Homo sapiens: one gene and its partner. The protein of the gene in region 2 interacts with the protein of the main gene of each other region in a biochemical or structural test. Each region holds a gene or a part of one and is shown on either strand. Other genes may lie near its edges.

Region 1 (7,040 bases), on a different chromosome or scaffold from region 2:
AACAGAAATTGTTGGTTAGGATGGCTAGTGTTTAGTATTCTTTTCTTCCTTAATATTTATGTTGTTTCTGTTAGAGTCATAAAGGGCATGTATATACAGCATGCAGTTTTCCAATAACACAAATGTAAATTATGTCAAAGTTCACATTTCTAAGCTACTTACAGTGAGCAGCAGGACTAAGCTTGAGAAGGCTCTTCCTGTGAATAAACGTATTTCTGTATATAGAGACATGGCAAAGGTGATAATCCTTGTGTATGACAACATTTAAAATTGTTTTGAAATACTAGTATATAATTGTATAGGTGACAAAACATGTTCACCACTGTGGTCAGTGCTTTTAGGGAATAACCATGTCTGATTTATTACTTGATTTAATGTTAAAAATCACAATTTCTCCATTAGCATTGTACAAGAAGAAGACCCAAATGAAGAGCTTTCAAAAGATGAGTTCATTCTGAAGTTAAAGGCAGAAGTACAGCGTTTGCTGGGTAGCAACTCAATGAAGCGTCATCTGGTGTCTCAGTTACAAAATGACCTCAAAGACTGTCATAAGAAAATTGAAGATCTCCACCAAGTGAAGAAGGATGAAAAAAGCATTGAGGTTGAGGTATGTAAAGCCTATAGAGTTAAAAAACCATTTTTAAAAGGCTCAATAAAGAAAACTTTTACACTTTTTTTTTTTTGAGACAGGGCGTCACTCTGTCTTCCAGGCTGGAGGGCAGTGGTGGAAACATGGCTCCCTGTAGCCTCAACCTCCCAGGCTAAAGCGATGCTCCCACCTCAGCCTCCTGAGTAGCTGGGACCACAGGCGCACGCCACTATGCCTGGCTAATTTTTAAATTTTTTGTAGAGACAGGTTCCCACAATGTTGCCCAGGCTGGTCTCAAACTCCTGGGCTCAAGCAATCCTCCCACCTCAATCTCTCAAGGTGTTGGATTACAGGTGTGACTAACCACATCCAGCCCTTTTACATGTTTTTAAATTAATAAACCTTTGGCTTTCAGGAGTTTATTTGACATTTTTAGAAATAAAGTTTAAAGAAGGAAATGCCATTTTTAAAGGGATACTGACAGTCCCTGACTTAGGATGGTTTGACTTACAATTTTTAGACTTTACAGTGGTGGAAAAGTTATGTGCATTCAGTAGAAACCATATTTCAAGTACCTGTAAAACAGTTCTGTTTTTTACTTTCAGTACAGTGTTCAATAAATTTCATGAGATATTCAACAGTTTATTATAAATGAAGCTTTGCATTAGATGACTTTGCATAACTGTTGGCTATTATAAGTGTTCTGAGCACATTTAAGGTAGGCCAGGCTAAGCTATGGTTTTAATAGGTTAGATGCATTAAATGCATTTTTGACTTAATGATATTTTCAACTTATAATGATTTTATTAGGTGATAAACCCATTGTAAGTTGAAAAGCATCTGTATGTTTTTTCTGGTTACTCTTGGCACCTAGTAAATGAGATACCAATTAGGTAAAATTCCTTTACCATAAATACAAGGAAGTATTCTCTGTAACAAGGAATCTGCATTTCTTTAAGATTGGCTTTTACCAATAGTGCTCTAAAATCTAGTTAAAATAAATCCTCCATAGAAATCCTGTAGTATTTTCTATGAGATTTTCCTGGCCCATGTTCTTACAACAAAAGTCATTCTATATGAGGACATTAATTATATAGTGATGATGGTACAGATATTATATAGTGGTCGTGGTACTATGGGAAAGTACACAAAATCTGGTTTTGTCAGTCATTGAAATCCACCTCTGTATTCTTCAGTTCGGAAAATGAAGCTGGAGCACTTTGTGACACTTTTGAATTTACAGAGCCAATTTCAGACAAATTGAAACTAAACACATGACTAATAAGTAAGTCAAAGATATTTCTGTAAGATCATGCTATCACAGAGATCTTTAGGGCTGCTCTCCTTTATAGATCCTTTTTTTTACCCTTCCATATTTCACAAATCATCAGCCATCTATACTCCCAATAGAAAATAATATATAAAACACCTAATAACTAAGAAAAGCAAAAGAAGAGGGAAAAGGAATGTGGGTAGTATACTCCTTTTCCTCCTGGGTGGAGATAATTGTTTACTTCCTTCTTTAGTACTGTTTTATCTCCTATTTAAACTAGGAGTTGTGTTCATTAGAACAGTTCTGCTAAAGTATGTATAATATTCTGTGCTAATTATTGTGGAATTTTGATTGTGGTTAATTTTTATATTTTGGAAAAACAGTGTTTTTGCTATCAAAATCTTTTCCAGCCTGATTCCCTCTTCTGAGTAACTACATTTGATGACTAAAACATAGATTTTAATATTAACAGCAAATGAGAGAGACTCCTCCCCGCCCTGCCCCCTGCACATTTAACATCTTTAAATCAAGCTGTTTTCATTGTTGCCCTACATTTCTTTAAAAGGATGGGAATGAAAGCTTGTTTCTCAATTTGCATTAAGACATTAGAGTTTATTAGTTTAAGCATTTTGGTGGGAGTGCTCTAGGATTTAGGATACTAGAAACCTGATTTTGAGTCTGAACCTTAGCTCAGATATCTTGGTGCTTTCTTTGTTCTGTATTAAACTTGCTAATGGCATTTGCTATACAGATACACTTTATCATGTGTAGCAGTAGATAGTGGTCATGCATTGTACTGTTTTTTAGCCTTCCCATTTTCCTCTGTAGTCTGGTTGATCAATAGATCAAAGGAATAACTATCTCATCTTTGAGTATTCTTTTTGTCCAGCTACTCTATTGCCATAGTGAATTCTCGGTAGTGTACATCTAAACTCCAATTTTTCTCAAAGTTACTTCAGCTGTGGACTCAAGTGATCTGCCCACCTCCACCTCCCAAAGTGCTCGGATTACAAGGATGAGCCACTGTGTTGTGGCAAAGAGCTCAGAGTCCAGGTACACAACAAGTGAAACGGAGTAGATATATTTTTAAAATCTTTGTAACCCCCATCAATGAATAAAAAGAAAAGTAGATAAGGAAAACTCTCAGAGGAAAATATGCAAAGTTAAATGAACAGATAAATCTGGGAAGGTGGAAAAACAAATGAACAATGAAGGTATATAAGAGGTTCCACTTTGGTGGTGACACAAGAAATACAAATGAAAGCAATTGTTAGATATTCTTTTCCCATCAAAGATAATTATTTAAAGATAATCACTGCCATTGGAGGCAAAGAGAGATGGGCAGACCCATGTACTACCTGACAGTATACATTTGGATGACATTTCTGGAAGGCAATTCGCCAAAGTCTATCATGAGTCTTAAAAATTGTATGTATTGAATAAAATATATGTCCGTGAGTGAATGCTGACATAAATGAATACATACAGAAATAGAATAAATGCTTGATCTTAGTAGGAGAACATATGATGAGAAATAGGATATTTGTATTGTCTCAAAGTATCCTATAAGATACTTATCATTTATTATAAAACAAAAAATAGTAAGTTTACAATGGAGATGACAGATCCCACCTTCAATTGATTATTACCAGTGGTGAGACATAGTGATATCATGTGTCTCCTGCAAAGAGCACATATCAGTTCTTGACATGCATGCCAAAGATGCATAACCTGATTTTAATAAACCTAAAAACTCCAAATTGAGGAACATCCCACAAAATAACGGGTTAGTATTCTTAGAAAACATCATGGGTTTGAAAGACTGAAGAGCTGTCCTAGATTGGAGGAGACTAATGAAACATGACAACTAAATGCCACTCAGAATCATGGATTTGATCTTGGACCAGAAAACAGACATTTGGGGCAAATTGGAGACATTTGTATAAGGTCTGTAGATTACTTGATAGTATTGCATCTGTGTTAATTTACTAGTTTTGATGATTGTGCTGTAGTTATATTGGGGGAAGATGAGTAAAAGCTATATGGAGATTATTTGTACTGTTTGCAATTTTTTTAAAGTATGGAAGTATTTCAAAGTGAAACTTAGAATTTTTTAAAACTTGTAAAACTTTTGACCTTTTAATATTCAGACTAAAACAGATACCTCAGAAAAACCAAAGAATCAATTATGGCCTGAGTCTTCTACTTCTGATGTTGTCAGAGATGATATTCTGCTGCTTAAAAATGAAATTCAAGTTTTACAACAACAAAATCAGGTGATTAAAAATATTTTTTATATTTTATGAGAATTTTTATTTCCTCATTAAATACAAAGGATATAATAGAGTTTTTGCAAATAAAGAGGCAATGTGAGTTAGTAGACAAGTATATTAGCAGGTGATTATGAGTTCCAGTTACTTCCCTTTGCTAGTGAACTGTTGGTTAGTAGTTTCATTGGAAGGTAAGTTAGTGTAGTTCCAGTTCTCTTTCTCTATGGTAGCATGGCTGACAGAGGTATTCTTTCCTCCTTAGCCAGCTCTTGACCCAGAAGTAAAACTTTGCTTATTTAGATGGTTGCTGAAGATTATTGAATTCTGAGACTTATTTTAAGGCATCAGCTAGCCAATACTTCTCTGGTTAAATATTTTCATTTTATATATTTCAAAGTAAATACAAAATTTAAACGTTTAGTCCTGTCAGAAAACTACTTGTCAAATAAATGAATCTATGTTCTTATCAAAGCGTGAAGAGACTTTTTCTTTTGCAGAATTGTAAAAATAATATGTCAAATATTGTTATAGGGGAGAGAGAAAGCATAGAAAATATTAAAAAATAAGACAAAATCAATCAGTGAAAATGATGTTTATTTTCTGTAAGTACTAAGTTTATTCTTTTGTGTCTAGGAACTTAAAGAAACTGAAGGAAAACTGAGAAATACAAATCAAGACTTATGTAATCAAATGAGACAAATGGTACAAGATTTTGACCATGACAAACAAGAAGCTGTGGATAGGTAAGGTCTATATAGATGCCTGACGACTGTCTCCTGGGTACCCTTCCCCTCTAAGTCCCTGCCCTTCCCTGTGACAAAAAGATTCAAAATGATTGAGTGATTTCTACCCTGTTGAGATCTTGGATTGGCAGAGATGAGTCCCTGGCTTCTCAAATTAGAATTTGGAACACATTTTCCATAGAAACAGTGTTATGTAGTGGGTTGGGTTCTATAGTATCATTGAAACTGTAGTTCACTGAAATATTATAGGTTAATATTTTTTTAAAGACTCGTCTGGGAAACTATTCTTTATAAAGAAAAAAGTCTGTGAGAGGGAATATGTCTTCCAAATACCAAATCATAAACTTGGAAACAGACTTCTGGAACATAACTTACTTGTGAGTTGGGGACTGCTAGTATTTGTGTTTAATATAGATGACTTGAAATTTTGGAGCCACACCCTCAATTATTGCCATTAATTTTTTATAAACAGAAGTCCTCAACATAGATTACTATCTCTATTTGAAGGACTGGGGCAGTCTCACATCCAAGTTTCTAATTGTTCTCTAGAAACATTTGAAGAAAGAAAATTTTGAAGATTCTCATAAGATTGTTGGTTATTAATTAATTATTACCACTTTCAGTTGGGGAAAAGTTATCTGACCTCAATTATAATTTGCATTAGAGGGAAGAGGTGAGGAGGAAGGAAGGAAACCAATTCATTTTGGTGTTCGTAGTGAGACTGGGCATTGCCTTTGATTCCGCTCTGTTTCCAGGTGTGAAAGGACTTATCAGCAGCACCATGAAGCCATGAAAACTCAAATACGTGAAAGCCTATTAGCAAAGCATGCTTTGGAGAAGCAGCAGCTCTTTGAGGCTTATGAGAGAACTCATTTGCAACTGAGGTGAGAATAAAGAGTTTAGCTGCCTTTTAAGCTGTAGAGACTACATTCCCCTATTCCATAATTTAGAGGAAAATTGTTTGTTATGCAGCTCTTGTATTTTTTTGTGGTTAAATCATTTAGTTGCTGGTTTTGTGTATCCAAGGTCTGAGTTGGATAAGTTGAATAAGGAGGTGACTGCTGTGCAGGAATGTTACCTAGAAGTGTGCAGAGAGAAGGATAATCTAGAATTGACTCTCAGGAAGACCACTGAAAAGGAGCAACAGACTCAGGAGAAGGTACAGTACAAGTTTATGTTGTATCGACATCCTTTCACTCTTCAAGCCTCAGTATTATCATTTAAACGAATACATTTGTTCTAGAGAAGTGAATGGAGAAGGTATTCATATGTTCTCTTTACTTTTGGCTGTATCACACTCATATAGCTCACAAATAAAATACAGTAATTACTGAAATGATTATTAAAACCTTAATGTACAATGGCATATAGATAGGAGAAAGTGATTTTTTTTTTCTTGCAGATTTATTCTAAAGGGCAAAAAAAAAAAAAGGATCAGTGTCACTTTAAATCTGAAAATCACAGATCCTCATTTTCGGTGTTGACTGTTCAGGAAACCCTATGTAGTCCTGTGAGCGCTGCACGGAGCATTCGTTCAGAGCCCTTTTTCTCGGATCCATTTCTTTCTCACTACCTCATTGTCATTTTATTCTTCTGGGGAGAAGAGTAGGAATTTGAATGTTGGTCTCGTGATAGGGAAAGTGATGATATGGAGGATATGGACAGCAAGGTCAGCATCTTCGTATGACCTCCTTCAGGGAAGCTGGAGGGGCTAGAGTAGATTCTCCAACTCTGCCTGATTCTTCTGAGTCACTCTTGGTGAGTGTCCAGGAGTAAAATCACATGTAAACAGTCACACCTCCTCTTTTCTTCCCTGTCCTGGCCCAGTGCCTTAACAGGCCTGACTGTCCTTCACACTTTGGACCAGCGGCAAACCACAGTTTGAAAGCTATCTGCCTCAAGATTAGAAAATATTTTTAAATGCTTAAATAAATGTTCTATACAGAGGTTTTTGAATAAGTTATGTTAAAGCAAGCTATTACTACCACACACTTAAAAAGAATAGTAAAGAGCAGGCGAGGAATTCAGTTCATTCAATATCTTGATTATTGTTGAATAGATTAATATGGTGAAAAATGTGCCATGTATACATATCATCTAGTGGAAAAAGAACTTCTAAAGGGAGCTGTTTTAGGTAGGGATGGCAGTATAAAAGTGAGAAAGGA
Region 2 (3,123 bases):
TTTTTCCTCAGGTTTATGGAAAATTTACTTTTCGAATACCTAATCTGGTCCATTTCTATTGAAATTATAGGGTTGGAGTGCTATCCTTGAGGAATGAGAGAAGGACAAAGAACAACAGGCAAAGCAGTAGTTAGACTTTCCTGTACAAAGTCTACTTTAGGGTAACAAATTGTTGATAAGGGAAGGTTTTCTTTTTTAGGTAAATTCCAGCTAATACATGGAAAAGGAATGAGAAAATTAGAAAATCACGAGTTTGCTACTCCTCACGAAATAAAGGATCTTTTGAGGGAATGTTTTACATTTTATTACAAAAAATTTCAAAGTAGGCAGTTGGGAGGAGAATTAGCCATACTTTCGTCAGGAGAAAATCTTAGGTGATAATCTTGTGTTGGTTTTTTAGGTGGAAAAGGTTTATAAGAATGGGTGCCGTGTTATACTGTTTCCCAATGGAACTCGAAAGGAAGTGAGTGCAGATGGGAAGACCATCACTGTCACTTTCTTTAATGGTGACGTGAAGCAGGTCATGCCAGACCAAAGAGTGGTATGTTTCCAGAGGTGTTCTCCTCCATAGTTTAACCATCTCTGGAGAAAAGGCAGACTGACTGTGTGTCTTTACAGATCTACTACTATGCAGCTGCCCAGACCACTCACACGACATACCCGGAGGGACTGGAAGTCTTACATTTCTCAAGTGGACAAATAGGTACAAACTTGCTCCACCCTCTCATTAAATTCTTCCCTTCCTTCAAAAAATATTTACTGTAACAACTTTTTAAACAGAAAAACATTACCCAGATGGAAGAAAAGAAATCACGTTTCCTGACCAGACTGTTAAAAACTTATTTCCTGATGGACAAGAAGAAAGCATTTTCCCAGATGGTACAATTGTCAGAGTACAACGGTATGGCAACATTATGTTCACAGAAAAACCACTCAGTGTGACACCTGTTCATCTGTGCTCAGAAGGTGCCCCAGCCTTGCGTTTCTGATGATATGTGACACCCATATTAGGGGGTTCAGTTTGAATGAATGTCCCACAGGCATGTCAGTCAACTTGATGTGAATTATTTTTCACATTCTCCTTTTTTGTTCCATTCTTTCAAAACAGATTTTTAAGTCTGATCATGCCCCTTCCCAGGAATAACTAACTCTCTTCCCCACCTGATACAGAGCAAACAAACACTCAGATGGTTTTTAAATTAGTGAAAGAAGGGTCCCTTTTAATATAACAACCAAAAGGAAGAACACAAGTTGAAAAAAGTTACTAAGCATTTTGTGATGAAAATATGAATGATTAAAACAATGCTAATCTGATAATTGGAACTATCACCATGAAGCAGAAACACTGTAGAAAGTTACAATTGTATAGGGATAACCAAGGGATGTCTCCAGAAGTAGCTGCCAGACTCAAAAGGCTACTTTTCAGTAGTTTTTCTGTTGTTTATTTTCTATTATTTTTTTTTTAAGAAATCATATTTTTTTTAAATTTTACAGTGATGGCAACAAACTCATAGAGTTTAATAATGGCCAAAGAGAACTACATACTGCCCAGTTCAAGAGACGGGAATACCCAGATGGCACTGTTAAAACCGTATATGCAAACGGTCATCAAGAAACGAAGTACAGATCCGGTCGGATAAGAGTTAAGGACAAGGAGGGTAATGTGCTAATGGACACGGAGCTGTGACGATCCTCATGTGATCATGAAGTAACAGTAACTGACTTTTTATGTTAAAAAATGTACATTTACTGTGGATTCTGTTTAATTTATTGTGTATGTGTGGGGAAAAGATTAGATTCTAAAATAAAAGTTTACCCTGTGGCATCTTCATTTTTATATTCTTTGAAATGCAATGATAGCTCTCATTTATAATTCACTACCCTGTCTTTCAATAGACTAAGGAAAGCATTTTGACTGTTTAGAAATTGTGTACAGGTTTTTACAGTAAGTGGGTGTGTTTATTGGTTAGAAATGGCTATAAAAAAAAACCAAGAAGTACAGGAAGTACATCACCTAGATGTCCCACAGACACATCAGCCGTAGAGCACTGGACTTGTACAGAAGGTGTACTCAAGGAGTAAACACGTGTCTCTGTAGCCAAAATATTACTATGTTCAGTTAGTACCAAAATTAGACCATTTGATCTTCTACAGAGGATCATTAATTATTATAACAGAATGGGAAGTTACAACAGTGGATGAATATAAATAGGTCACACACAACAGGTAGTAATCATGGTGAAGAGAAAGCAGTTATAACAAGGCTGACTTTGTAATGTAATGTCTCAAAATGGGATACTTGAGAGTGGAGGGGGGCATGAACGATGACTAGCCAGTGTTAACCCATGGACCACAGCTACCCTGATGTTACCACAGTGAGATTACTGTAGCCTCATGGAAGCAAGATGTCCCTGAAGGATGGGCAAGTCACTTACTTACTTACTTGTAAATTTATATAATAAATAATTACAGATTGGTCTAGATAGACCTTACCTGTCACATATACTATGAATCAGGTTTTGTTAATGAAATCTATCAATTCCAGGTGACTTAACTGAATATGAAAAATAAAACTTTTTGAAGAATATAAGTACAGATGTATCTATATATAGATGTATCTATATATCTATCTATATAGATGTATCTATATCTATCTATATAGATGTATCTATATATCTATATAGATGTATCTATCTATATAGATGTATCTATCTATATAGATGTATCTATCTATATAGATGTATCTATATATCTATATAGATGTATCTATATATATAGATGTATCTATATATCTATATAGATGTATCTATATATCTATATAGATGTATCTATATATCTATATAGATGTATCTATATATCTATATAGATGTATCTATATATCTAGATGTATCTATATATCTAGATGTATCTATATATCTATATAGATGTATCTATATATCTATATAGATGTATCTATATATCTATATAGATGTATCTATATATCTATATAGATGTATCTATATATCTATATAGATGTATCTATATATCTATATAGATGTATCTATATAGATAGATATCTAGATATATAGAGACGGGGTTTCACCATGTTGGCCAGGCTGGTCTCAAACTCCTGACCTCAAGTGA

What was found.
Region 1: the proteins of CPAP (region 2) and CEP152 form a complex in vitro, tested with the Homo sapiens proteins (one study listed by IntAct).

The regions. Positions count from the first base shown.
Region 1 is NC_000015.10:48,766,054-48,773,093, reverse strand, and holds part of CEP152 (centrosomal protein of 152 kDa), read left to right. Parts: intron 1-402; coding exon 403-607; intron 608-1,804; exon of another isoform or gene 1,805-1,874; intron 1,875-2,921; exon of another isoform or gene 2,922-3,809; intron 3,810-4,012; coding exon 4,013-4,138; intron 4,139-4,765; coding exon 4,766-4,875; intron 4,876-5,630; coding exon 5,631-5,759; intron 5,760-5,901; coding exon 5,902-6,034; intron 6,035-7,040. UniProt on the Homo sapiens protein: Necessary for centrosome duplication; the function also seems to involve CEP63, CDK5RAP2 and WDR62 through a stepwise assembled complex at the centrosome that recruits CDK2 required for centriole duplication.
Region 2 is NC_000013.11:24,881,741-24,884,863, reverse strand, and holds the end of CPAP (centrosomal P4.1-associated protein), read left to right. Parts: intron 1-70; exon of another isoform or gene 71-161; intron 162-400; coding exon 401-541; intron 542-618; coding exon 619-703; intron 704-780; coding exon 781-901; intron 902-1,494; coding exon 1,495-1,687; 3' UTR 1,688-2,585; downstream 2,586-3,123. UniProt on the Homo sapiens protein: Plays an important role in cell division and centrosome function by participating in centriole duplication. Inhibits microtubule nucleation from the centrosome. Involved in the regulation of slow processive growth of centriolar microtubules.